4 linked regions of the Homo sapiens genome follow. The protein of the gene in region 2 interacts with the protein of the main gene of each other region in a pairwise test. Each region holds a gene or a part of one and is shown on either strand. Other genes may lie near its edges. The genes, in order: RINT1, C19orf25, EPS8 and INSYN1.

Region 1 (5,002 bases), on a different chromosome or scaffold from region 2:
AAATGTCCAGAACAGGCAAATCCATTGAGACAGAAAGTCAATTAGTGGTTGCCTATGAGTTGAGGGAGTGGGGAGACGGTATTAGAGGATAACGGCTTTTTTCTTGGTGATGAAAATGTTCTAAAATTGTGATGGATATACAACTGAATATATAAAAAAATCATTGAATTATACACTATTATTAGTTTTGAGATGGAGTCTCACTTTGTCGCCCAGGCTGGAGTGCAGAGGCATGATCTCGGCTCACTGCAACTTCCACCTTCCAGGTTCAAGCTAGGATTACAGGCACATGCCACCACACCCGGCTTATTTTTGTATTTTTAGTAGAGTTGGAGTTTCACCATGTTGGCCAGGATGGTTTCGAACTCCTGACCTCAGGTGATCCACCCACCTCAGCCTCCCAAAGTGCTGGGATTACAGGCATGAGCCACCGTGCCCGGTCGAATTATACACTTTAAATGGGTGAATTGTATGACATATGAATTCTATTTCAAACTGTTAAAAAAAAAGTATGCTAATGTGTTAACATGTTTTTGCTTTCAGTTCTTTCTACAACTTCAACAGGCTGCACTGGAGGTGTTTGCAGAGAATAATACTCTGAGTAAATTGCAGCTAGGACAGCTAGCCTCTATGGAGAGCTCTGTCTTTGATGACATGATTAACCTCTTAGAACGTTTAAAGCATGATATGTTGACCCGTCAAGTAGACCACGTTTTTAGAGAAGTTAAAGATGCTGCAAAATTGTATAAAAAAGAAAGGTATGTCCTCTATGTAAGTCAGCTCTTAACACCAGTTTGGTAAAAGTTAAAGAATATGTGGTCAGATTTTCAAGGTGTCTAGATAGAACCCGGTTTGGCCTTATGTACTTTATTGTTGATGGAAATATTTCTAAAGTATGTTCTCTTGGACATTTTTTTTGAGACAGTCCTACTCTGTCACCCAGGCTGGAGTGCAGTTGCACGATCTTGGCTCATTGCAACCTCTGCCTTAGAGGTTCAAGTGACCTTCCCACCTCAGCCTCCCAAGTAGCCAGGACTACAGGCATGCACCACCACACAAGGCTAATTTTTGTATTTTTAGTAGAGATGTGGTTTCACATTTTGGGCAGGCTGATCTCCAACTCCTGACCTCAGGCAAGCCACCTGCCTCGGCCTCCCAAAGTGCTAGGATTACAGGTGTGAGCCACCACACCTGGCTGACATTCTTAATCAGAATAAACTGATTATAATTTAGTTGTTTGTAAATATATCAATAGGATAGTGTGTGATCTGGGGTTGAATAGCCTAACCTGTCTCCCATTTTGCAAAGTAAAGTGCACCTGTGGTACTCTGCATACTTTTGTTGTGGTTTATCCCACTACCATTCACTGTGAACACCTGTGTTACTTTCATCCTTGATAGCAAGCAGTATCTTTTTGTCCTAGCATAGTCCCTGCCACACAGAGTGCTTAAAATTCGTTTATTAGTCCTGTTTTTACTAAAAATTAGAGGATAATATTAGCTGATGTCTTAATTAAAATGCTAAAATCAGGCTGGGTGCAGTGGCTCACACCTGTAATCCCAGCACTTTGGGAGGCCAAGGCGGGCAGATTACTTGAGGGCAGCAATTCGAAACTAGCCTGGCCAACATGGCGAAACCCTGTCTCTACTAAAAAATTCAAAGATTAGCTGGGCGTGGTGGTGGGCACCTGTAATCCCAGCTACTTGGGAGGCTGACACGAGAATTGCTTGAACCCTGTGGCTCTAGCCTGGCCAACAGAGCGAGACTCTGTCTCAAAAAAAAAGAAAAACTACATAAATAAAATGCAAAAATTAAGTGACATTTTAAATTGTAATTGCCTTATATCAGTAATTCACATATTAAAATTTGGGGATATTTTGGATATATCCCCATATTAAAGAGTATTTGAGAGTGAAAATATAAATACAGGTACATTTATTTTCTGATAGAGCTTTTAATGTTAGGCTGTATATTTTTTCTTATCCAAAATGCCCTAGGACAGAACACTTCCTCAAATTTAAAATGATTTAAAAACTTGAAAAATAGAAACTGATGAAAATTTTTTGGTAAAAATGTGTTTTTTCCAGATGGTTGTCCTTGCCATCTCAGTCAGAGCAGGCAGTGATGTCCCTGTCCAGTTCGGCTTGCCCGTTGCTGCTGACGTTACGAGACCATTTACTTCAGTTGGAGCAGCAGCTTTGTTTCTCCTTATTTAAAATTTTCTGGCAAATGCTTGTAGAGAAGCTGGATGTATACATCTACCAAGAAGTAAGTAAGAATAGACTGTTTTTGGGCTGTGATAATAAAGACAACTGTTATATGAATTATTCTTTGTTTCAGATAATTCTTGCTAATCACTTCAATGAAGGAGGAGCAGCCCAGCTGCAGTTTGATATGACTCGGAATCTTTTCCCTTTGTTTTCTCACTATTGCAAGAGACCAGAAAATTATTTTAAACAGTAAGCTCAACATTTAACAATTAATATTAATGTATCAAATTGTTACAGGAGGCTAACTCCTTTTAACTTTAGGGTTCTGGAGATGTTTGGGTGGGATAAGATCAGTTGAAATTTTAAAACATTGTCTATCTACTGTATGCTTACAGCACAATGGGGAAACCAAGATGATAGATGTGACCCATGACCTCAAAAAGTTTCAGAACTAGATATAAATTACCTGTTGGGTTTTGTTTTCTAGTATTTGGTTTAATGCTTCTAGTTGCTTAGTTACTGGAGGAATAAATAGAAAATGAAAACAAGTACAGTTGTGCCCTATTCACTAAATATAAGAAATTACAGGGCCGGGCGTGGTGGCTCACGCCTGTAATCCCAACACTTCGGGAGGCTGAGTTGGGCAGATCACAAAGTCAGGAGATCGAGACCATCCTGGCTAACATAGTGATACCCCCATCTCTACTAAAAATACCAAAAAAAAAAAAATTAGCCAGGCCTGGTGGCGGGCACCTGTAGTCCCACCTGCTTGGGAGGCTGAGGCAGGAGAATGATGTGAACCCGGGAGGCGGAGCTTGCAGTGAGCCAAGACTGTCTCAAAAAAAAAAAAAAATTACAAATATGTTTAATACCTAATAGGCCAGGCCTGAAAGAAATTTGTTTCCTTAAACATTTGACATTAATTTTGGTTCTAAATATAATTATAGTTTCAGAATTTGTTGATCTAAAATTTATAGGCCAGGCATAGTAGCCCACATCTGTAATCCCAGTACTTTGGGAGGCAGAGGTGGGAGAATTGCTTGAGGCCAGCTGTTTGAGACCAGCCTGGGCAACATAGCAAGACTCCATCTCTACAGAAAGTATTAAAATGAACAAACAAAAAAAAGCCAGGTGTGGGGGTGTGGACCTGTAGTCCTAGCTACTTGAGAGGCTGAGGCTGTAGTGAGCTATGATCGTGCAGTTTCACTCCAGCCTAGGTGACAGAGCAAGACCATGTCTCAAAAAAAAAAAGTAAAATTTAAATTATGTTTGGGTTTTGTGAGGTTATAAAGCATTCCTTTTAGACTTATAAAATGAAAGCTTATGTTTACACGTTTCATAGGACTGTTTTTAAAATTTATTTTAATGTTCTTTCTGCTGCTTTCATTTATCTCTTATTTTTGTCTTTTCCCATGTTCTAATCTACCTAAAGTTATAGCTATATTTAATATAGTGTTAATATTAAGTATTGTATTTAGGGAAATAACGGATACATATTGAAATAGGGATCGTATTACCTTATAGTAATCTAAAGAAATAGCAACTCTGCACCTGTGTAGTCTTACCATGTTAAAAGAACCAAATAATAAATCCATAAATATTTTTATAGAGAACATGTGGACCAGCAGTGCAGAGAAGCTGTTTAGGATTCTCAAAATTGTAATATAATTGATGCAGATAATGGAGATCTCATTTCCCTCCTTTGTTTTCCCTAAACAGTATAAAAGAAGCCTGTATTGTTTTGAATTTGAACGTCGGTTCTGCACTACTGCTGAAAGATGTACTGCAGTCAGCTTCAGGGCAGCTTCCTGCCACAGCAGCATTAAATGAAGTTGGAATTTACAAACTGGCTCAACAAGATGTTGAGATTCTACTTAATTTGAGGACAAATTGGCCTAATACTGGAAAATAATGTCTTTCAGAAAAAGGTTTCTTTGGTTTTTGTTTCTAAGAAAGAGGAAGCCAATTGGATTTCAAGTTATATGATGAAATTCTGAATTAATGAAACTGGAAAACTTTATAGAATTACTTATTATCTTGGATTTATGGTGTTATTAAAATGCTGACCATATTTCCTTCATCCTCTTGTTCCTAAGGAAACAAAAACAGAAAACGAAACAATGAAAACTCAATTCTATTTACAAGTATAAATGCTGAGTATGTCTGTTGAAGACGAGCAGAGATATTAAATTATAACCAACTTTCAATTTCCTGTGCTAATTAAGGGAAATTCTGTTGTGGATAATCAAACATAGCCAATAAATTTTTTTAAAACTCCCTTTGAATGCATATTTGTAATTGAGGCACCTGTATCTAGTTTGGGAATTAACTGTATTTCCATGAGGAAACTGGCAGGGCACAGTGTCTCATGCCTGTAATCCCAGCACTTTGGGAGGCTGAGGTAGGAGGATTGCTTGAGGCAGGAGTGCGAAAACATCCTGGCCAACATGTCAAGACCCTGATGCATGCCTGTAGTTCTAGCTACTTGGGAGGCTGAGGTGGGAGGCTAGCTTGAGCCCAGGAGGTCAAGACTACAGTGAGCTCTGATTGTGACACGGCACAGCAGCCTGGGCAAGCGAACAAGACCCTGTCTCTAAAGAACAAAACAAAACACATTGTGAGATGGTGAATAAGATAGGATTGTTCTTCATTTCTCACAAATGCCCTTCTATTTTAAATGCTTCCTAGTTTCATTCTGTGTGACAGTGGGCAACCCTTTCTTTCTGGATGAAACATTTCAGGCCATGGCACTCTGACTCAAACATTCCCATGTGGTAGGGAATGTAATTAAA
Region 2 (7,697 bases):
CCTGCCCCTCGGCAGTGTGGTCTCCCACGGACGAAGGCTCCACGTGCCGCACGGGTCTGGGCTGATCAAATCACCTCTGTCATCACCTGCTTTAGCAACAGGGTGGGAAAGGCCGGGCAGTGCCTGGATGAAGGCACAGGAGGCCCCCTACCTTCTGTGAGCGCCCCCCGTCCCCCGCACAGCGTGCCTCAGTTTCGCCACACTCAACGGCCATGGACCTGAGCCCATGAAGCTCAAACCACGGCCCCAGCACCCTCAGGTGACCGAACTGCATGCTGGGAATAAAACCAACTCATGCACCTTGACCAGTACCGGCCCACAGAACCTTCCAGATGATGCGCACACCTCCCACCGATGCTGGTCCACACCAGCCACCAGCCATGTGTGGCTCCTGGGCACTTGAAATATGTCTAAAGGGAAAACACAACTCAATTTTTCTCTTTTTTTCTTTTTCAGAGACAGGGTCTCACTCTGTCACTCAGGCTGGAGACTCCAACTCCTGGGCGCAAGCAACCCTCCTGCCTCAGCCTCCTGAGTAGCTAAGACCACAGGTGCATGCCACCACACCCAGCTAGTTTGTGTATTTTTGGTAGATATAGGTTTTGCTATGCTGCCAAGGCTGGTCTTGAACTCCTGGCCTCAAGTCATCCTCCTGCCTCAGCCTCCCAAAGTCCTGGGATTACAGGCATGAGCCACTGCACCTGGCCCCAGAATTTTCTAATATTACTTTTTAAAAATGTTCCCTTAGAAATTCACAGTTTCTATCATTCCACATGGCTCATTTTCTTTTTTCTTTTTTTTTTTTGTTTGAGATAGAGTCTTGCTCTGTCACCCAGGCTGGAGTACAGTGGCACGATCTCAGCTCACTGCAACCTCCGCCTCCTGGGTTCAAGCAATTCTCCTGCCTCAGCCTCCCAAGTAGCAGGGATTACAGGCATGCGCCACCATGCCCAGCTAATGTTTTTGTATTCTCAGTAGAGACGGGGTTTCACCATGTTGGCCAGGGTGGCCTTGAACTCCTGACCTCAAATGATCCGCCCACCTCAGCCACCCAAAGTGCTGGGATTACAGGTGTGAGCCACCGCACCTGGCCGATTCATCTTCATTTGTTTCCCGCCAGCCCCAGAACAGCCTGGGGCAGACATTCTTGTTTCTTTTGTTCACTTGTCCATTAGCAGTGCTCTAAGCGCAGAGCCCAGCACACAGGAAGTGCTCAAGAAAAGGATTGTTGAATGAATGAATGAGCCTCATCCAGAACACAAAATTCACCCAACTGCACTGCTGAATCCTTTGGTCTCTGACTAGCTTCCACCTCGTAAATCAGGAGTGGACAAGCTTTCCTGCCAAAGGCTGGAGTCTCTGCTCCCACTACTCAACTCTGCCCTTCTGGTGTGAGAGCAGCCACTAACCGTATGTGAATCATTTGGCTGTGTGCCGTAAACCTTTACTTACCAACACTGAAATCTGAATTTCATACCTCTTTCAGGTGTCAGAAATGTTCTTTTTCACCCACCCCCATTTAAAAATGTGAAGTCCATTCATAGCTCCCAGACCTTAAAAAAACAGCCAGGGGCAGGGTTTGGGGGGCCCTAGCTTACCACCTCTGTTTTACTTTATTTATTTCTATTTATTAATTATTATTATAATTATTGAAACAGAGTCTCACTGTGGTCCAGGCTGGAGTGCAGTTGCGTGATCTCAGCTCACTGCAACCTCCGACTCCCAGGTTCAAGTGATTCTCCTGCCTCAGTCTCCTGAGTGGCTGGGATTACAGGCCCATGCCACCACACCCGGCTAATTTTTGTATTTTTAGTAGAGACAAGGTTCCACCATGTTGGCCAGGCTGGTGTCCAACCTCTGACCTCAAGTGATCCACCCACCTCGGCCTCCCAAAGTGCTGGGATTATAGGCGTGAGCCACCGCACCGGCCACTTATTTATTTTTGAGACACAGTCTGGCTGTGTTGCCTAGGCTGTATCCTCCCACTTTAGCCTCCAAGAAGCTGGGGCTACAAGTGTCCACCACCACACCCAGTAATTTTTTTTTTTTTTTGAGACAGTCTCGCACTGTCACCTGGGCTGGAGTGCAGTGGTGCGATCTCGGCTCACTGCAAACTCTGCATCCCGGGTTCAAGCGATTCTCCTGCCTCAGCCTCCCGAGTAGCTGAGATTACAGGCGCCTGCCACTATGCCCAGCTAACTCTGTTTTGTTTTTGTTTTTGTTTTTGTTTTGTTTTTTCATTTTTAGCAGAGACGGGGTTTCACCATGTTGGCCAGGCTGGTCTCGAACTCCTGGGCTCAAGCGATCCTCCCGCCTCATCCTCCGAAAGTGCTGGGCTTACAGGCCTGAACCACAGCGCCCGGCCTCCACCCCTGTCAGAAGAACCCTCTGAAAATCGGTCCCACTCTACGGAGGAGTAGAGGGAGACTCGGAGAGGATACGGACCGTGCCCATGTTGCGGGGGTTCCCAGGGCGTGGGGTCAGGAGTTAGGGGTGTGCTTCTCTCCCGTCCCCTTGCTGCCGGGGTCTCAGGTCCGCTTTTCCCCGGGACCGGGCTCCCCCTACCTTCCGGGGCCAGGATGGTGAACACTGGATCCTCTGCCGGCGCACCCCGCACATCCTCCAGGATCTGCTCCACCGTGGGGGGCGCTGGGCGGGTGGGCAGCAGCACGCGCTTCTTTGCCTTGGAGCCCATCTCTGAAGGCGGGGAAGGGGGCGCTGACCGGGGCGTCCACCTCTCCGCCCTTGCCCGGGCTGCTCCTCCCGCCCAGCGAACTCGTACGCACCCGTCGCGGTCCCGCTCCCGGGGAAGCCCGCCCTGTCCCGCCCCTCTGAGCTCGCCCCAGGCCCTGACCCTCCCTCCGCCCAAAAACACGGTGGCCAAGGCTTCAGGGTCTGGCTCAACCTCTGCCTCAGTTTCCCCGCGGTCACCCCAGTCGCCGGCCTCTTCCCACCTGGGCGCGGGACCCGAAAGCCCAGCGTCGACGACGCAGCCACTTCCGATTCCGGTCGGAGCACCGCCCCGTCCCCGAACACGTGACACACACTTCCGGCCTCCTCTCCCGCCGGCCCGCCGCTCATCGCGGGGCTCCGCCCCGTCTTAAAGGGATAGTGCCCTTGAGACTCGGATCTCAGCCTCTCAGGCGAACCCGAACCTGGACGCGCTACGATGAGAGCGAGTTCGAGTCCAGGCTCCACTGGCTGGGTAGAAAAGCATCCGAGGCTCGTCTTTCTGAAAAGGGGAACACGGCACTAGGGGACACGCCACCCATGTGGCTGACGGGAGCACAAAATTGCTGTCCACCTAAGGGAGCCTGGTGGTGCATGAGCACTCGGCGGCCGGAACACAGCGGGGGCGGGGCGGTCGCGGCGCCTCCACTTCCGGCCAAGGCGGGTCCTCCCACCTCGGGGACGGTGCTGGAGGTCACCTTTTCCTCTCCGCTGATGCCTGGGAAGGCAGAAAGAGCAGAGGGCCCTTTTCCTCTCTCAGGGGCTTTATTGAGATGCAGTTTACATACCATAAAGTTCTCCTGTTTATTTCGTTTTGTTTTGTTTTTTTAGAGACAGAGTCTCACTGTGTCGCCCAGGCCGGAGTGCAGTGGCGTGATCTCAGCTCACTGCAACCTCCGCCTCCCGAGTTCAAGCAATTCTCCTGCCTCAGCCTCCCGAGTAGCTGGGACTACAGGCGCCCGCCACCACGTCCGTCAAAATTTTTTTTTGTATTTTAGTAGAGATGGGGCTTCACTGTGTTGCCCAGGCTGGTGTCAAACTCCTGAGCTCAGGCAATCCGCCCGCCTCAGCCTCCCAAAGTGCTGGGATTACGGGCGTGAGCCACCGCGCCCGGCCAAATTCGCCTGTTTAAACTGTAAATTCAGCCTGGGCGCGGTGGCTCATGCCTGTAATCCCAGCACTTTGGGAGGCCGAGGCGGGCAGATCACTTGAGGCCAGTTTGAGACCAGCCTGGCCAACATGGTGAGACCCCGTCTCTACTAAAAATACAAAAATTAGGCTGGGTGTGTTGGCTCACGCCTGTAATCCCAGCGCTTTGGGAGGCCGAGGTGGGTGGATCACGAGGTCAGGAGATCAAGACCATCCTGGCTAACATGGTGAAACCCTGTCTCTACTAAAAATACAAAAAGAAAAACAAAATTAACCAGGCATGGTGGCGGTTGCCTGTAGTCCCAGCTACTCAGGAGGCTGGGGCAGGAGAATGGCATGAACCCGAGAGGCAGAGCTTGCAGTGAGCCGAGATCGTGCCACTGCACTCCAGCCTGGGCGACAGAGCAAGACTCTGTCTCAAAAAAAAAAATATTGTTGAGAGAGAAGGAAGGAAGGAAGGGACAGAGAGAGGGAAAAGGAAAGAAAGAGAAAGAAAGGAAAGAAGGAAGGAGAAGAAAAAGGAAGGAAGGAGAGAGAGAAAGAAAAAAAAGAAAAAGGAAATAAAGAGAAGAAAGTAAAGAAGAAAAGGGAGAAAAGAAAGGAAAGGAAGGAAAGAGAAGGAAGAACGGAAGAAAGGAAGGCGAGAGAGAAAGAAAAAGAAAAGAAAGAGGAAGAAAGAAAAAGGAAAGAGAAAGAAGGAAAGAAAGAAAGAAAAGGAAAGGAAGGAAGGGGCCAGGTGCGGTGGCTCAAGCCTGTAATCCCAGCACTTTGGGAGGCCGAGGTGGGCGAATCACGAGGTCAGGAGATCGAGACCATCCTGGCCAACATGGTGAAACCCATCTCTACTAAAAAAGGAAGGAAAGAGAAGGAAGAAAGGAAGGAAAGAAGGAAGGAAGTAAAGAAAAGGAAGGAAGGGAGGGAGGGAGGAAAGGGCCAGGCACAGTGGCTCACGCCTGTAATCCCAGCACTTTGGGAGGCCAAGGAGGGAAGATTGCTTGAGGCCAGGGTTCAAGGCTGCAGTGAGCTACAATCGCACCACTGTACTCTAGCCTAGTCAACGTAGGGAGACCCTGTCTCAAAACAAACAAGAAAAAAAACAAAGGAATCACCGCAGGAGAGGATTCTGGGCCATGGTGAGCCATGTTCTGGGGCTGGACATTACTGCTGACCCCCGGCCATTCCCTGCTGTTCCCACTGCCTGGGGTCCCTGGGCCTGGGCGGACTCTTTCTCCGTGGCCGGCTGCATTCTCCATGGACTGATGTCCGGGGACCCCAAGCAGAAACCACCTGAGCCCTGGGGCCTCGGGCCCACCCTGCTCCAGAGGAGGCCACAGACTGAGCACCTTCTAAGCAACCTTTATTTGCAAACTCTGAGGTTGGACGCGGTGCCCGAGGCGGACAGTGTCACGTTTCTCTCCCTCCACTTTCCCCTGGCTTTTGGGGTGCTCCAGCCTCTCCCCCCAGCCCACTCCCGCCCAAACCCAAAATGCAGAGGAGACTTCTCTCTCTCTCTCTCCCGCCAGGCTTCGGGGTTCCACGGGGCCCATCCCTGGCAGGCCAGGCGTCGGGTGCTGGTGCTCGCTCCTCTGGGGCCAGCCTGGGGAGGCAGCATGGCAGCAGTGCCTGTCAGGGACCCAGGCGGGGGCAAGGTCGCTTTCTGAGCTGACAACTTCAGGTTCCAGCTGGCAGCCAGACCTGGGGTTTGGTGGGGGTGGCCCTGGCACGGGAGAGCCAGGCGTATAGTGGGAGGTCCATGGACATGCCGCAGAGGACGGGGCCTCCGAGGGTCACGGCCAGGAGGCTCAGCACCATGGCCGAGGCTGGGCAGCGGTGGTGGGGACAGGCGGCAGCTCTAAGCCGGGGGCGGCTGTCGGGGGTGGTGGGTCCCATGCAGGAGCCCTGCTGCTGGTCCAGCGTGGAGGATGGGGGACAGGAGGTGCAGTCCCTCGGGGAGCCGCCGCGGCAGGTGTAGCAGGAGGCATGGCAGCTGGAGCAGACCCTCAGCGCGGGCGCCGCCGTGTGCCCAGGCCCAGCGGTCACCAGCCTTGTGTGGTTGAAGAACCGCGGGGGGCAGTAGGCCAGGCAGAGCTGTCCCAGGATGTAGGCGGGGCCGTCACACGCTGCTCGGGGACACGCACGCAAAGGCCCGTCAGCTTGCCACCCGCAGCCTGTTACTCGCCACCCGCCCGCCTGGGGCCACATGCACGCTGCCCACGGTGGCCGCCACCGCCTCCCAGCAGTGGGCCCTGCCCCGCCGGCACTCACCCTGGCACAGCCCCTCTGTGTCCCGCTGCACACACGCGCTGCTGGTCACCTGGGGGCCTGTAGGCCGCGCTGTCATGTCCTCGGCCGTCCCATAGAGCAGCAGCGTGTAGCGGTACAACGTCCCTGGACAGGGGTCGCGGGTGGGCACAGGAGGAAAAGGAGGCTCTCGGCAGCCTGGTCCTGGTAGTCCCCGGGCTCCCTCCCCTTCAGCTCCCACGCGGGGCCCTGGACTGGTTCACATCTCTCAGGGAATTGCACACCTACTGTGCGCCTGTCACTGGACACCGACATCTCCCGGGTGACTGCACACCTACTGTGCGCCTGTCACTGGGCACCTACATCTCCCGTGTTACCGCACACCTACTGTGTGCCTGTCATTGCACACCATCTCCCGGGTGACTGCACGCCTACTGTGTGCATGTTCTCTTGGAGAAGGCCACTGGGAACCCCTTTTGCAGTGCGGTCACCAAGGCTAGCTCCAGAGCCCCTGGGGGGAGGTTGGAGAGCCAAGCCCCGCCCACCACAGCCCCGCCCCGCCCTCACCCGTGTTGAAATAGTAGCCCTTGTTCTCTAGGCCCAGGGTCCACACGCCCTGTGGGTTCTCATCCCAGAAGTGGGTGGACATGAAGACCCAGTTGTTGTAGCCTTCAGTGCTGACGTCCAAGGGTCTGGGACAGAAGGGTGGGTGGGGGTGGGGGTGTCAAGAGGGATGGCTTTGTGAAGCCGGCAGAGCCCCATGAAGTGTCTGACCGCACGCGCTGGTGGCCGCGTGTCCTCTGGGTGTGGGTGAGGGTGTGACTCGGGGTCCCACCAACTAGGCTGCCGTGTGACTCCTATGGGCCTGGCCCCTCCCCGTGAGGACACTCCGGGTAGATGGCAGCGTTTACCGACAGGGCATGAGGCCGCCCCCTCTCCTCTGCGGGCCGCTCACCGTATGGCCACGAGTGTGGAGCGCGTGCCCATGGGGCTGGTGAGCGAGATCTCCAGGTCTCCGCGCCGGCTGTAGGACAGCGTCAGCTGCGCCTGCACGTGCTCCAGCGAGCGGATGGAGTTGTGGAGGCCGGCGCAGGCCGATACGTTTTCCCTGATGTAGATCAGCGGCAGGATGGGGCTGAGGGGGTCGAGGGGTGAGGACCCTCCTGCGGCCTGCTGGGGGGTGGGTGGGCGGCCAGCAGGCGAGGTCGGGGCTCAGAGGTCACGGGGTCCAGCCCTCGTTTTACAGATGGGTAAACTGAGGCCTCAGGCCTGTCCCCCACACCCCCAGCGGGGATAGCGGAGGGGCGCGCAGGGGTCTCACGTGGGGCGGCTCTGGACCCGGACGGCGCACTTCCTCTGCGGCTGGGTGGGCAGCCAGGTGCGGGCGGTGTCCACCAGCAGCCCGGCGTCCAGCAGCCCGTATCCGTAGTGATGGCTCACTGCGCGGAAGGGCAGCAGTCACTCGCCCCGTGGGCCCCGGGTCCCCGCCCCCGCCCGGCCCCGCCGCACCTTGGCGCCCCACGCCGTTGGTCCTCCAGTCCTCGGCCTGCAGGTGCGCCGGCTTGGACGCGCGGACC
Region 3 (7,250 bases), on a different chromosome or scaffold from region 2:
AGGTTATATTTGGAAAAAATTTCCATGTTAAGAATACTTCCTATCATGCTTCAAAATTTCCATACATTTCTAATTACATATTACAAAAGAAATTAGGGCATTTTGACATTTGAAGGCTAAAGCAAATTGAGTTTGTTAATCCAAATGGGTGTAAAGAAACATAACTAACAAGAAATATAAACATCAGTTACAAAGTAAGAAGCAAGCCCAAGCACCTCCTAAAGTGAGAACAAATATAATAATCCAAGCAATTTGGTTTGTTCTTTCAACAGTGTGAAATAATAACAAGGGTGATAGCCAACCTGAAATTACTTGTCTACCAAGTTACACTTAGAAGATTTAGATCATCATAATAATAATATTCTAAGCTACAGTGTACCTTTTCTAGATTTACTCATGGATATGTTTTATGTTATATGGCTTTAAGGCTGTGAGTCTACAGAGGTATACACAGCAGTCCCTAAATTATATTCATACATCAGATTGGGGAGTGGGAGTGAACAGGGATGTTTGAAGAATTCTGACTCTTGGGTAATGTGGAGATAGCTCTTACTCCCCAGATAGAATTCAGTCATTATAATTTCTCCACATTTTCTGTATGTAGCATTTATACCCAGCTGTAGACTCTGCTCCTATATTTTGGGACAGAGTATTGCTCTGTCACCCAGGCTGGAGTGCAGTCAACTGATCTTGGCTCACTGCAACCTCTGCCTCCTGTGTTCAAGTGATTCTCATGCCTCAGCCTCCCAAGTAGCTGGGACTACAGGCGTGTGCCGCCAAGCCTGCTAATATTTGTATTTTCAGTAGAGATGGGGTTTCGCCATGTTGCCCAGGCTAATCTCCAACTCCTGTCCTCTGGTGATCGTTTGGCCTCGGCCTCCTAAAGTGCTGGGATTACAGATGTGAGCCAATGAGCCTGGCCTGCACCATATTTTGAATGCCCCATTCACTCCAGGTATCTATCTCCATTCTACATCATTCCTACATCATTTTCATCCCAAATGCCAACATATACTAATGAGATTTTCAAAAAGGAAAAACTTGTGTATAGTGATACTCTAAATAGGTAAGTTTGACATAGATTCTTAACAAAAGTATAAACCAGATTATTAACAATGGTTTTAGTGGGATCACTAATACCAGAATGGGTTAATCTGAAAACAGATCTTATTTAACTAGCTTCCTTTTTTTTTTTGAAAGAGTTTCTTGGACCAGTAGATTTGGGGATGCTAGAAACAGTAAATCTTTATTTCAGCAAAGCATCTAGAAAACCTTCATGAACTCCATGTTGGTTATGGTATGGGTGCATGGACTAAAGTGCTTGAAAAGTGTTGGTTCATAAATGACTGTTACCTTGGAGATCTATTTTGGCAGTGGGCTGTCTGAAGATACAGGGGAAAAGAAACCCCAAACCTAAGTGTTTTTTTCTGTTCTCTTATTCAACAATCAACATAGAAGACTTCTGTAAGCTCTGGTTACCAAGAAGTGTGTAAGAATTTCCCCTACCAGCAATCAACCAATCAATCCTGCAGCAGACACAAGCTGGGTGTCTTCAATTCAATTCTGAAACTATCTACCTGGAGATAATGTCAGATCCTACAGGTTGAGGGCTCAGTCCCACAAGACTACCCTGACTTCAGATGCCAAACAAAAAAGCCCCAGGTGGCTTTACTTGTGCTTCTGGCTGAACAACTAGAAATTAGGGTTCCCGTGACTCCCTCCTTGAGTTTGGTTATTTTGCTAGACCTGCTCACAGAACTCAGGGAAACATGTTTACCATTTTCTTATAAAGGATATTACAGAGGATACAGTTGAAGAGATGCATAGGGTGATTTATGCCCTCTCTGGGAGCACCGCCATCCAGGAATCTCCGTTTAGTTATTCATGTTCCCCTCTCTGGAAGTGCATGTAACCCATTCTTTTTTTTTTTTTTTTTGTGGAGGCTTTATTGCGTAGGCATGATTGATCAAGTCATGGGCCATTGGTGATCAGCTTAACCAGCCCCGGAAGTTAGAGGGTGGGGCTGAAGGTTCCAACACACTAATCATGCCTTGGTCCTTCCTATGACCAGTCCCCATCCTGAAGCTATGCTGGAGCCCCCAGCCATCAGCCAATTCATTCAAATACAAAAAGATGTTCATCACTTTGGAGATTTCAAGGATTTTAGGAGCTATATGTCTGGAAATGGGATGAAGACCAAATATATATTTTATAATATCACAGGCCTTTTTAAAGCCCGTTCTGTGTTACTGTTTCTTACTAGACGTAAATGGAGCCAAACAAGGCATACTTATTAAATTTACAAATGTTAAAAGTGATCACTAGTATTTATCTGAAATTGTGTCCTAAAACAAACACGATAAAATTTAATAAGAATAAAACAAAAATCAAGATTTAAATACATAGAAGTATAGACTATGAAAGGTGGAAGATACGGTTTAATTTAGTTGATGTGAAATAGACTTGGGTGTTCTGTTTGAATCTAGGTAGTGTGTGCTTGCATCAAAGGGGTGGCTGATCAGCAGCTGGAGAACTGGAACTCAGTTCTTGGCCCACTGTATTTGAATATTGTATTCTCAGTGCACAATTTAGAGAGGAGAATGAAAATCAAAACACATTCAAAGCAAGGTGAATAGTGTGATTATGGCAGCTCACTGCTATTTGAAAAACACTTAAAAGAGAATTTTTGAAGAAATGTATTAGATCTGTTGGTTACTTAATAGTTGCCCCTACTATTTCAAGGCTTGCAGTGTCTATAAAGAATGAGATTCATATTGTGTTGTTCCTAGGGGCAGAACCAAGACCAGTAGTATCAGGGAAGTTGATTTGATGTTCATAAATGATACAGGCTATAGTGTTAAGCAGACCTGGTTGTTAATTCTGGCGTCAGCATTGGCTTTGGCAAAAAGAAGGAAACTTCTGGGTTTCATTTTCCTAATGTGTTTAATAGGTATAATAAGGCCCATCTCATTTTAAGGACTAGGAATAATGTGTGTAAGTTGCTCAGTTCCTGGCATAGGTAAATATTCAACAAATAATCATGGTTATATGTAATGATAAAAATAGAAATTTACAACATTGGAAATGTTCAAGTGGATAGTGGTCTGGTGGAAATATTGGAGAGAGTATTCCCACTTAAAATAGGGGACTGGACTTAGCCGTTATATCGATTCCAACTTTTAGAATGGTTTGAATGTCCACCTTGGCATGTTACGTCGTTTCTCCCTGACTGTGCTTTTATTTGCTTCACAAAGCAAGCAAGTCCAATCTCTTTTAACCAAGTTTAATTTATAGGCTTTCGTGGACTTCTGGAAGTCAACTGACTTCGAAGTTAGGACAGCATGGGGGGATTGGGGGAGTAGCTATGACAATGAGGAGTTTTAAGAGTGAGAAAACACAATGTCTATGAGAACATGGACTTCTCTTTTAGAGGCTCCATGAGCTACTCAGAGAGGAGGTTATGAGGGTTGGTTAAGGTACGAGAGGCACAAAGTGAAAGAAGCCTCCACTACTTCAAACCACATCAGGGCTTTTGGCAAGAGCTACATGAAAAATAGGCTCACAGGCAGCCTGGCGAGGCGGGTCTGGGCTTGCAGGCTGGCGCTAAGGACCGGCAGTTGGGAGACTCTCAGGGACCCGATGGAGGGCCTTGGGCACCACCAGTTTACCGCATGGGTTGGAGAGACAAAAAAAGAGGAGAGCGACAAAAGGGGGAAAATAGGTCCGATGATCAGAGGAGGAAGACGAAGGCTGGCTGGTCATTAGATGCGTCTTGTTTGCCGCCAAAGGGCAGGGGTTACGAGCTGTGCAGCCAGACTGGGTGTTGCAACCCGAGCGCTCCCTCCGCCCGGGGCGTCCATCCTCGCCGGGGGCGAAGCTCTCCACACGCTCTTTGCCCCTTCCTGCGCCTCCTGGCTGCTAGTCAGTCCTGTTAGGGCACTTCTGGAAACCTGCTGTCGACTCGCTGCCTTGGTCCGACTTTGATCGCGGCCTTGATAACTTGGCGCAGCGCCCCGTCTCCTTTCCTCCGGTCCCTCTCCCGCCCACCCGGCCTCACCGGCCACTTCGCCTCAAGCGCTGGAGTCGACCAGAACTCTGCGGCTCGGCTGCCGGCAAGACCCGGATAGCGGATTTCGCTCCTGGCTGCGGGGCGCGCACTCGCCCGCCCGCCCGCTCGCTCGTTCCTCGCGCGGGCACTGGGCATGCGCGGCGCGCGGTTGGCACTGGCTGCGAGCGGGCGGGCGGCTCCAGACTTCACAGGCAGCAGCTAGCGAGGCGGTCTCGCCCGGCGCGAGGCCGGCGCTGTGCTCGCCTCGGAGATCGCTGCTCTTTAGCTGGGTGCAGAAGGCGGCTCCGCGGCTCGCGGACGACTGGCTGGGCGCGAATCAGATTGGGGGGCTTTCTCCCGGTCCCCTCCCACCTCGTCTGGGCTCGCGGCGTCTCCGGGGAAAGCCGTGGCCCCGAGGGCGGATCCGAGGTAAGAGCCCCTTGGCGAAAGGCGCCGGTCCCGGGGTCCGGCGGCTTTGACTTTCTCGATTTTAAAAATCCGCCTTTGTGTGCTGGAATCGGAGCGGTGCCAGGAGCCGCGTCCGCCTCCCTTCACTTTGACTGCTTTCAACTGGTGTTGGCAGCCAGGTGCGGTAGGGCGCTGCGGCCGGAGGCGTCCGCTCGCCGGGTCCGGGCAAGCTGTGGGGCCCGTGCAGACCCGCGCCCAGGGCTCCGGGAGGCTGGGCAGGGAGGGTTCGCCGTGGCCCAGTGATATTCATGGTAACCTGAGCTTCCGCAGATACACCTGCGCTCATCTGGTCCGTGGGGCGACTGCAGACCGAGTATCCCGATCTCGGCTTATTACGTTAGACTTGGGATTTGTGCGCTGCTCTGCCAACCCGCCTCAAATGGGGAGGGGTTCTTTTCAAAATGACCCTTTAGGGCAGGGTCCCACCCCCGTTTACCCCCTCGAATTAACATAGCTAATTGTTTCGGAATCGTTGTCAATGCCTAATGGCTGTTGACTTTCTTAGCTTGCTCCACTTTACTCACCATTTTACTTTTGGGAAGACAGACGGCCTTTCTCCGGTTGTGGTCAGTTCATGCATTTGAAAGGGGTTTCCCCACCCATGTACTCCCTGCCCTCTCCGATGTTCTCACTCTTACTTTCCTTCCTAGGACTACCTGTTTGCAAAATCTTTGCACCGACCGTTCTCCGGCAGTGTTTCTCAAATCCTCCTCCTCCCATAGGGCCCGTAGTACTGTTGGAATCTCGCGGGGGGCAGGACGCCGTGGTTAGGATTTGAAATCCGCAGACATCTAGAGCGGTGAAGGATTAGGAATTAGAATCCTCCTTTACAAAATATGTTTCAGTGAAATGTGTTACTGCTTCTCTTTTCAAGGTTTCTTGCCTTAGATAGTAAGGGGAATAGGTAAAAGAGCTAATATGTTAGGATGAGTTCAGGTAAAACTTGATTTCAGATGTGTGAAGAGTGTGACTTTTTGGCTTTGTCATTTTTGGGAAATAGGAGAGTTAGGATTCCGGGCAATCTTCTTTATATTGAAAAAGCCCCTCAAAGTAACTGTGTTGTGTATTGCCTCTAGTTTATTTTCATTGAAAGGACTCCATTCTTCCACAGCTCCTTGGGTTCTGGAAAGTGAGCACTAGTAATGGACGTCATGTGGTAGTGAGTCTATTGGAATTAAAGTCAATGTCATCCTGTCTCACCTAGTATAGATTTTTTGTTTGGGATCGCAGTTTTCTAAACATATTGCTGTAGTTCTTAAGTTGCTGGTGTGGAAAATTTTTGGTCACGAATTCACACTTTTACTTACAATTTGACAGTTAAAACAGTATAGAATTGTCACATAAAGGGTAAGGTAGAATGTATCACAAATGCAATAGTGATAATATAATGCCTTTATTGCAGAATACACAGATTGAGACTTTGTAAGATTGCACCACAAGTCATTCACTTTATAGCAGAAAAAAAAGAAGGAAAATATAATTTGCTTTTAATTCTACTATTCTGAGATAACCGCTGTTTACAAGACTTGGTGCATTCTCTTTGTAATTTTTTTCACTTCCCAATGTCATTGAATATTATATAGTAATTTCCAGTAAGTGTAATTTAACTTATACTGTTAGTAGCCCCACTCTTAATAGGGTGATGTTTCTTTTGTTTCCTGTCAGGAACCTAATGTCTAATTTTGAATATTTTGCTTGTTTGTGATCAAACTTAAAGATTTATTTTGTTTTTATTTCTAGCTTTTTCCTGCTTTCAAGGTTTTATCAATACTGATTCTTTTCAGATACCAGTTCTTTTCTATGCTATGGCATAGGCTTGCTACTCTCTACTTTGTGTTTATTACATTCCAAATCCTAGTTATTTTCTTACACTCTGTTTCACACCCTTTACCCTACTGCTTTTTATTCTTCTCTCTACTCCCTTCTTTTACATACCTCTTTTAATTCTGCAGCAGGTCACTTGAACCAAGGTTTGTATAAGAAAACATAGTATCCAGAATAGGAAATGATAGGTTTTTAAAAGTTGTCTCTTTAAATACTTGAAGTTCTATTGGATGAATATTTTAACACTGATTTATGTAATATTTATATACAACTCAGCTTTCCTGAGTTGTGTGAAACATACTTGGTAGTTACACGGATCATCACAAAACAACATAAGTTAATGATAAGGTACAAACTTTTGGACATCTGTAGAGGTATGTCGGGGGAAAAAGTGGAATTTTAATTAAAGTATTCTGGCTATAGTAAATCCCTCCTGGGAATTATTAATACTACATGAAATTGTTTGCAGCTGTTAGTGATTGAAAATATTTTTGTAAGAAAAATTCTGCATTGGAATAGTTGCAAACATTTTAAGTTGAATATATGCAAGAAAGTTTAAGGGTCTTCAGTGCTTCACTACAACCTTTTCAGTATTTTCTAGATGTATTCCTAAATGGGATTTAAAAAAATAGACCTTATTTCTCAGAAGTTTTGGATTTACAGGAAAGCTACAAATACGGTGTCTATATACCCCCATACCAGCTTCCCCTCTTATTAACATCTTGTATTATTGGTATTTGTTACTATTAATGAACCAGTATCAGTACATTAGTATTAACAAAGTTTATACTTTATTTAGATTTCCTTAGTTTTTAATGTCCTTTTTCTGTTCCAGGACCCTACCATCCAGGACACCACTAAATGTATTTCCTCGTAATGTCTCCCTAGGCTCCTCTTGGCTGTGACAGTT
Region 4 (7,984 bases), on a different chromosome or scaffold from region 2:
CTCGCATCCCCTTAGGGAAGACTCCTGCCCCTGCCAAAATATGCAAGGAACTCTGTTATCCACTACAGCACCCCCAGACCCATTCTTACCCCCGGACAAAGAGGACATAGCTGGCTTAAATTTTTCCAAGATCAAGGGTTCTCAGTATCTGTGTGATTTCTAGGGATATGCTTTGAGCTGGGCCTCAAGCAGTGGAAACCACCTCAGCACAACTATCTGCACTCTCCCAGGGTCCCTTGTGACCAGATCAGAGTCTGGGAGACAGATGGTGGGTTCAAGGGTCAGCTTGGGTCCCAGAAGGTTGTCTTCCACTAAGAAGCTGTGGCGGGATTCAGTCCTTACTGGCCATCTTGGCAGCCCTTTGTGCTAACCCAGAGCTCCAGGCCCACTGACATGCTGCTCAAGTAACCTCTACAACACCGAGGCCCCTCCAGCCTTGGGGTCTGATGAGATTTTTAGCAAAGCAGATTTGCGGAAAGGAGAGCAAGGAGAAAGAAGGTCCCCAGTAGAGTGACACATGTGCACGCAGCTTTGCACACTCCAACGTATTTATGAGTACGTTTTTGTGCCAAACCCAAGAAGGTTGGCTTAGGGTCTGTCTGGTCCCTCCTCACCCCTCACTTACCTCCCTCAGCTCCTTGGCCACCTCCTTGAGCTCGCGAAGGATGCCCTCAAGCTGCCCGATGACCATCTTCATGCGCTGTCGAATCCGCTCCCGCTCACCACCACTGCTGGGGTCGTCACTGGGCTGCCCGAGGTCCGGGGCGCCCCGAATGTTCATCGTTTACCACGTGGCCGCAGGCCTGCCCATACTCCCCCCAGCTGGGCACACACTGCGTCTGCCTCCACGGAGCCCCCCTCGGCTGGGCAGAGCTCCACATTTTAACGGCCCCCCAGCCCACCCTGGCCCTGGGCGGCCCTCAACCAGCCCCTGCCCCCTGCCACCCAGCCTCCTCTGCCTCTGGGTGGAGAGTGGGACACCCAGAGGGAGACAGAGTCTAGCAGAGGGGGTCAAGGTGAGGACACAGGAGAGGAGGGGGAGGGACCTTGGGTCCCAGGAGTGGCCTCCAGGTCTTGAAGTGCCTGTGGGTGTGCAGAGCTGATCTCTGCCTGAGCTTGAACACAGAGGCAGGGGGATGACTCTGCAGGGACTAAGGGTAAGAGATGCCCTTGGGATGGGGGAAGGCAGCAGGGATCCCCTCACAACTCCTAGGCAGTTGCAAAGGCAGAGGTCTCTGGATGCAACTGACACCTGCAGAGGGATGGTGGCCAGGGTCTTCCAGATGTGGAAGGGGCTCCGGATATGGGCAGCTCTGGGGAGGGAGCTGGATTGGAAGAGGGCAGCCCCCTGCGGAGAGAGCGAGCCTGGCGTCAGCCCTCCCAGGCTGCAGCACCAGCCGGCAATGCCGCTGCCTCCCTCCTCTCGCCAGCCTGCACCCTTCCTCGCTGGGGATTTTTTTTTCTTTGTGGGGAGGGGTGGTGGAGGCAGACGGTTTACAGCACAGCCCCTCCTCTAGAGGGAAAGGGAGGGAGCCCCTGCTTTAGAAGCAGAAGTCCTCAGCCTGCTACGGGGCACCCTGGCCGTAGCTCCCGCCCTCCCCCCCCACCTTCCCCCCAGCCAGGCCTGCCCAGGCTGGTTCACCAGAGGGCCTCTCCAGTCACCCATCCTCCCTCCTAGCGCCCCCAGGGTGCCCTCGTTCCCAGCGGACCCTCCCTCCCCCAGCCCCGCCTTCCCTCAGAACCCCCACTCCTGGACTCACCGAGGGTGGGGGCACCGGCCTTCCCTCCAAGCAGCGTCGGGGGCCAAGCCCCAAGACGGAGTTGGGGGGCCCCCAAGGCTCCCTAGGGCGGGCTTCTCTCTCTGGACCCTTCGGCCCCGGGCCTCAGGGAGGTCCTCCGAGCCGTGACCGGAGACATCTGGGCGGTGGGAGGGGGCGGGGCCTCCGCGCTCCAGGGAAGGGGGCAGGAAAAATCTTTCTCAAGCCTCTCCAGGCTCGGGGTCGGGAATGAGCGAGGGTCCGGCAGATTTGGGGCTCCGAGGCCACAGGTGACCGGGGCGCGGGGAGGCCGAGGAGACGCCGGGCAGGTCCCAGCGCGTGAGCCAAAGTCGGAGGGCTGGGAGGGCGCCGGGATCCCCTCAGCCCACGCCCGGCATTCCCCGGGCTCTGCACCGTCCGGGATTCGCTCTGTCCAGTCCAGATCGGCCGGGTCCGTGTTCCGCTGGGGTCTGCCCTGCCCTACCCCGCCCGGAGTGAGCTGGCACCGCCGGGCGCCCGGGACGCGCTCAGCCCGGACCCAGAACGTCCGTGCCCCGGCACCCGCGGCGTCCGGAGCGGCCGCGAGGGTCTGCTCAGCCCAGCCCCGCGGTCGGCCCTGGGCGAGACCGCTCCCACGGCTCAGTTCACGTTCCGAAAGGTCCGGAATCCACCGGGTCCCCGAGGAGGGGCGATGTCAGCCGCGGGGACCCGGTCCCCGCCGGGCCCAGCCGAGAGCGCGCGAAGCCGGGGGCCCCGGCCGGGCTGGGTTCGGCGGCCCGGGCGCAGGCGGGAGCAGCGCCGGGCGGAGGAGAGGAGAGGAGGCGAGAAGAGGCGAGGGGAGGAGGCGCGGCGAGGGGAAGGGAGGGGAGGGGGCGAGCGGCGGGCCGGGCCGGGCCGGGGCGCACTAGGCTCGCAGCCTCCGCTCGGCTCCGCTACCTCCCGTCCGTTCGCTCTCGGCTCCCCGCCTCAGCAGCCCCCGGGCGCCGGGTCGCCGCCGGTGGGGCAAACAGGCGCCGGGTCGGGGCTGGGCCTCCCTTCACCGCCTCGCCCTGCCCTGCCCCGCCGGGCTCCCGGGGCCTGGGCCCGCTCCCCAAGCGCCGCGGCGCCGCGCCGCCCGCGCCCCGGCCGCCCCCGGCCCGCCCCGCCGCCCCCCGCCGGACTGGCCGCCCGGGCGGGCGCTGGCTCCCTTAAAGGCCGCCCGGCTCGCTTGGCTCCGCTTGCCTCGGCGCTGTCAGGGAAGGGGCCGGCCCGCCGCGCCGGGAGGGAGCTTTTAAAGCGACACACACGCCTCCCAACCCCGAGGGCCAAGCGTGCGAGCCAGGGGGGTCTCGCCACCCGGGCGAGGGGGAAGGGTCTCGCTGGCGGGGCTGGAGGCGGACTGACCGGACCCCACGCCGGCTGACCTGGGGCGCGGAGGGACAGCGTTCTGGGGACTTCGTTCCTTTCCCACCTCTCCAGACACCCCCATTGCCCCCTTCCCCTACTGCACTGCCCCCAAGCTTCCCTTTTGGCCACGTTTCCCGCATCCAGACCCTCCCTTCTACCACCCACATAACCCAGCCCCTGACCTTGCCTGAAATCACATTCATTCAGAAAATAGAATACTGCCAACCTTTCCTGAGAACCTACTGTGTGCCAAGCTCTGGGTCGGCAGGGCTGGGGGTTGGAGGCTGTCTTGGACACCCATCGTTTCCTTCAGCTATTCAACAATTGACTCATGTATTAGAGGCCTTCTGTGCATCAGGTTCCATGCTAGGCTCCGGGGCCACCAGAGCATTTCAGGAAGCTCACGGCTCGGGGACACTCCTGAGTCACAACAGAGGCAAATTCTGGAAGCAATGTTAACAGGGGAGTAGGGAAGTGTGGGTTGGGTGGTGCAGTTCAGGCCAGGGCCTGGCGGGTTCTGCCAGGTAGGCCACCCCTGAGCTGAATCTCAAAGGAGGAGTAGGAGTGACTGTCAGTGTGGGGGGTTGGGGATCAGCATTCCAGGCAGGGAGGAGGGTGGGAGCACAGGCTCAGAAGCAGAAATGGGAGGAGGGGAGTTTAAGTTAACTGGGGCCTTTTAGATACCATTTTGACTGCAGACCACAGAGAGACTCAGAGACCATGGTTAGGAGCTTAGATTTTATCCCGGGGCGGAGGGAGCTTTGATATTGGGAGGAACCTGGGCCTGCTTGCCTTCTCAGGAAACCCCTCTGGGGCATTGTGAGTGGGTGTGAGGAGGTGCCACCGAGATAGAGCAGTTAGGAGGCTATTTCACCGTTGGCCAGAAGACAGTGGAGTCTATGAATCTATGCTCATGAGAGAGGCTGGGGCTTGAGAGTAACATTTTGTTTGTTTTTTTTTTTGAACCATCATTAGAGGGGTGAGATGAACAGGGACGCTGCGTAGAAGTAACAAAAGCAGTAGTTCTGGGCTGGAACCTCAGAAAAGAGTCCATGAGTGAGAGGGAGGAGTGATTAGAAAGATAGGAGAAGAACCAGAAAGTGGAGAGTTATGTAGGCCCAGTAGGAGGAGTTTGGGAGAAGCAAGTGCTCATCAGTGTCGAACGCGGCAGGGAGTGGCTGTGAGAGAAGGAACAGAAAGTGTCTATTTGTCTTGGTACTCAGGAGGCCACGGGTGACATGGCAGGGGCAATTGGTTTTGGAGGGTAGAAGGTGACAGGAACCAAACTGTTGGGCATCGAGGACTATGTGCCCAACAGTGAGGAACAGGAGTGAGTACAGATGACATTTTCAAAAGTTTAAGTGGCGGGGAAGCAGAGATCTTGAACTAGAGGCAGAGGAGGGGTCAAGGGAGGTGGGGCTAGGTGGTGGTTTTAGGCTGGCCCATGGGGGACTTGAATTCCAGAGACAGTGATGGTACTGTGGGTGCTAATGATGTTCCTTGGTCTCTGAGTTATCTCAGAGATGTATTCACAGGGGGCTGCTGGGGGAACTGACTCCTACTTCCTTGAGATTCAGCTCAGGGGTTGCCTTTGGAGAACCAGAAGCTGTGAGGGTGGGAATCCAGCTGCCCTGGGTTGGGGAGATGTTCTTCTGATGGGGTGGATCCAGAGGGCCCACCAATCACTTAAAAAATTGTAGCAAAATATGCGTAACATAAAATCTACCTTTTTTTTTTTTTTTTTTTTGAGACAGAGTCTCGCTCTGTCACCCAGGCTGGAGTGCAGTGGCGCGATCTCGGCTTACTGCAAGCTCCGCCTCCCAGGTTCATGCCATTTTCCTGCCTCAGCCTCCCAAGTAGCTGGGACTACAGGCACCCACCACCACGCCCGGCTAATTTTTTTGTGTTTTTAGTAGAGACGGGGTTTCACCGTGTTAGCCAGGATGGTCTCCATCTCCTGACCTCGTGACCCGCCTGTCTCGGCCTCCCAAAGTGCTGGGATTACAGGCGTGAGCCACTGCGCCCGGCCTAAAATCTACCATCTTAACCATTCGTAAGTGCATAGTTCAGTGGCACTAAGTACATTCACATTGTTGTGTAACCATCACCACCACCCATCTCCAGAACCTTTTCATCATCCCAAACTGAAACTCTGTGATTAAGAGCTGATAGCAGCCACTCTCTGTGGAGCACCTACCAGGCACCAGGCACTGGGCCAAGTACTTCCACATGCATTATCTTATTCCATCTCACAGTGACTTTCCATCACCCCTCCCCCCGCCAGCCCCTGGCAACCACCATTCTATCTTCTGTCTCTGTGACTCTGACTACTCTAGGTGCCTCATATAAGTGGAATCACACAGTCTCACCAATCACTTTTGTGGAAGCAGTGATGCTAAGGAACAGCCGAGACCAAAAATGGGCTAAGCCTGAAAAAAAAGAGTTTCTAGTCTTAGGTCCAGGGAATCATCCGCCCTCATCCAGGATGAGGGAGATGTGTTTGAACTGGCAAGGTTAGGAGACAGTGAGCTTGATTGGACAGGGTGGACTGTGACTGCTTAATACATAATTGATCTCGGGTCTCATTAATAGAAGCACAGTGTTTTGAAAAAGGGAGGTAACATTTCTTCTGTCATTTGTGTGGATCAAACTGTGCCTAGCACCTCAATTCATTGGGTGTGTCCATAGGAGGACAGCCAAGTAGAATAGGGGAGGTGACTGGTGTATATGTTCTATGAAGGATGGTAGGGCTGGTCAGAGCAGGCTAGAGAAGAGGAGACTCAGGAGAAGGGGTCTCTGATTGTAAATCTCCAAAGAGCTGCCACAGGCGAGAGGGAATAGATAGTATCTGGGTGGTGCTCAGACCTGCCTTCCTTAGTGTTTGGGGATTGATCCATCCTTTCTTCCACCCAACCTCCCTGGCCACCTGCCTAGATGTCCCATCCTTTAGATCTCTGCTTATTCACCGCCAACCTCCACCCTCTAGGCAGCCTTCCCTAGTGCTTTAGTCTACGGAGAGAAATGGAAGCACTTTTTTTTGCCCTTAACCAAATGCTTCCCAGGGCATTCATTTAATGTGCTAGCTGTGTGACCTTGAGCAAGTCACTTAACCTCTCTGAGCAAGGATAGCAGCCTATAAACATTTTAATTCTTTCTTGAATTGGGTCTCTTGTAAAAAAAAAAAGGGGGGGGGATGTATTTCACTGTCTCTCTGATTCAGAAAAATCAGGACAATAATGACTACTTTCCAGGGTCACTGTGAACATGGAATAAGATAATGCACATGGAAGTACTTGGCCCAGTGCCTGGCACCTGGTAGGTGCTCTGTAAATGGTAGCTGCTATCAGCTCTTATTCATGGCTTCATGTCTGTAAGCCTTATTTCCATGTGAGTCTGTGAACTCCTCATGATGGGCTTGTGTGTGTCTGCCCATCTCTCACATGGACCACTGCAGTAGACAGTAGACAGCGATTTTTACCTGTCTGCCTGTTTTCCACCATCCAGTTCTAGCATTCCTTTTCTTGGGGAAACTCCCTGCTGTCATCACATAATCCTAGTGGGTTGTCAGTTAAAGTGCCCACTACTCCCACCCATCCCTATCCCACTGCCACTAACTAGGCATGTGACTCAGACTGCACCAACCGTGGAACCCCATCCTCCAGCAACAGTGATTGGTCCAAGGGGTGGGCACATAACCTAAGCAGGACCAATCAGATTCTTTCCCTGGGATTGATATGTGGATGCTGGGAGGAAGAACCCCTCTTCCTAGTGGGGTGCAAAACTGGATGTTATGGTCCAAACCTGCTGACAAGCCATTTTTCCCACTCAATCTAGGAAGCTGAGCAAGGCAGCAGAGAGGAGAGGAATTTAGAGAGCATGCTAGCAGCATTGAGTCCCAGTTTTTGTTCTCATGGCCTTCACTCCTGCAGTTCTTCTTTCAGTCTGGAGAGCTGCAACAACATCCTACTCATCTCTAAGAGCTGATAAATTCCTCATATTGCTCCAGTTCGTTTGGTGGGGTCTCTGTCTCGTGTAACCAACTGGAGCCTGACAGATGCACTCAGGAAATACTAAATGAGCTGACTAAATGATTGACTGAGTAATTGGGTTCCCAGATGGGGTAAGATGTCTCCAAATCCTGAAGCCAGAGGGTTGGGACCTGCTGCCCTGTGGCCATGGAGGGGAAGTGGGGGCATTTGGGAGATTATTGCAACAGGCCAACTTGGATTTGGGCCCCAGCTTTGTCATTTGCTAGCTGTGTGATCTCAGGCAAGTTACTTGCCCTCTCTGAACTTGAGATCCTTTGTCTATAAAATAGGCAAAGTACTAGTGACTGCCTAGGGTTGCTTTGAGGATGGAATGAGATAAGGAGCAAAAAGCACCAAGCACAGTGCCTGGGGTGTGGGGGTGAGGGAGCAGGAGTTGGAAGAATGGTAAGAAATGGTAACTGTTTTTATTTAGTCTGCAGTCTACTCTCTCTAATAGCGCAGGACTGAGACTGGCATGCAGCTCAGGAGAGAACGAGGATTCAGTCTGCAAGCTAGATTCTCAGAAGCAATGGATCCTGACACCAGGGAAGCAGTGCCGGGGTGACAGTGGGCATGTTTGGGCTTCGAACAGATAATAGAGACAGTAGAGAGAGTCTACAGAGAGAAATGGAAGCACTGCCTAACACTTAGGCAGTAGAGTTGGAATGATAGGGCACCAATGCCAGCTTTTCCATTAACCATGTGACTCATTTAATCTTCCCAAGCCTAAGTTTCTCGTTCTGTAAATACCTTCCTGGTAGCTGTCTTGAGGACTAAATAAAACAGTTCATGTATCATGTTCAGCACAGGGCT

Evidence for each region.
Region 1: the proteins of C19orf25 (region 2) and RINT1 interact in binary tests that used the Homo sapiens proteins (3 or more experiments, as listed by UniProt).
Region 3: the proteins of C19orf25 (region 2) and EPS8 interact in binary tests that used the Homo sapiens proteins (3 or more experiments, as listed by UniProt).
Region 4: the proteins of C19orf25 (region 2) and INSYN1 interact in binary tests that used the Homo sapiens proteins (3 or more experiments, as listed by UniProt).

The regions. Positions count from the first base shown.
Region 1 is NC_000007.14:105,563,190-105,568,191, forward strand, and holds the end of RINT1 (RAD50-interacting protein 1), read left to right. Parts: intron 1-543; coding exon 544-758; intron 759-1,934; exon of another isoform or gene 1,935-2,087; coding exon 2,088-2,268; exon of another isoform or gene 2,269-2,340; coding exon 2,341-2,459; intron 2,460-3,133; exon of another isoform or gene 3,134-3,929; coding exon 3,930-4,122; 3' UTR 4,123-4,264; coding exon of another isoform or gene 4,265-4,301; 3' UTR 4,302-4,488; downstream 4,489-5,002. Other genes in the region: EFCAB10 (EF-hand calcium-binding domain-containing protein 10), read right to left, coding at 2,360-2,426, 4,278-4,301. UniProt on the Homo sapiens protein: Involved in regulation of membrane traffic between the Golgi and the endoplasmic reticulum (ER); the function is proposed to depend on its association in the NRZ complex which is believed to play a role in SNARE assembly at the ER.
Region 2 is NC_000019.10:1,476,209-1,483,905, forward strand, and holds the start of C19orf25 (UPF0449 protein C19orf25), read right to left. Parts: upstream 3,008-7,697; 5' UTR 2,955-3,007; exon of another isoform or gene 2,932-2,954; intron 2,698-2,931; 5' UTR 2,696-2,697; coding exon 2,566-2,695; intron 1-2,565. Other genes in the region: PCSK4 (proprotein convertase subtilisin/kexin type 4), read right to left, coding at 5,551-5,999, 6,145-6,267, 6,688-6,812, 7,076-7,255, 7,442-7,559, 7,630-7,697.
Region 3 is NC_000012.12:15,786,388-15,793,637, reverse strand, and holds the start of EPS8 (epidermal growth factor receptor kinase substrate 8), read left to right. Parts: upstream 1-4,249; 5' UTR 4,250-4,477; exon of another isoform or gene 4,478-4,635; intron 4,636-7,250. UniProt on the Homo sapiens protein: Signaling adapter that controls various cellular protrusions by regulating actin cytoskeleton dynamics and architecture. Depending on its association with other signal transducers, can regulate different processes.
Region 4 is NC_000015.10:73,750,350-73,758,333, forward strand, and holds the start of INSYN1 (inhibitory synaptic factor 1), read right to left. Parts: upstream 3,003-7,984; 5' UTR 1,761-3,002; intron 1,514-1,760; exon of another isoform or gene 1,349-1,513; 5' UTR 782-1,348; coding exon 626-781; intron 1-625. UniProt on the Homo sapiens protein: Component of the protein machinery at the inhibitory synapses, probably acting as a scaffold. Inhibitory synapses dampen neuronal activity through postsynaptic hyperpolarization.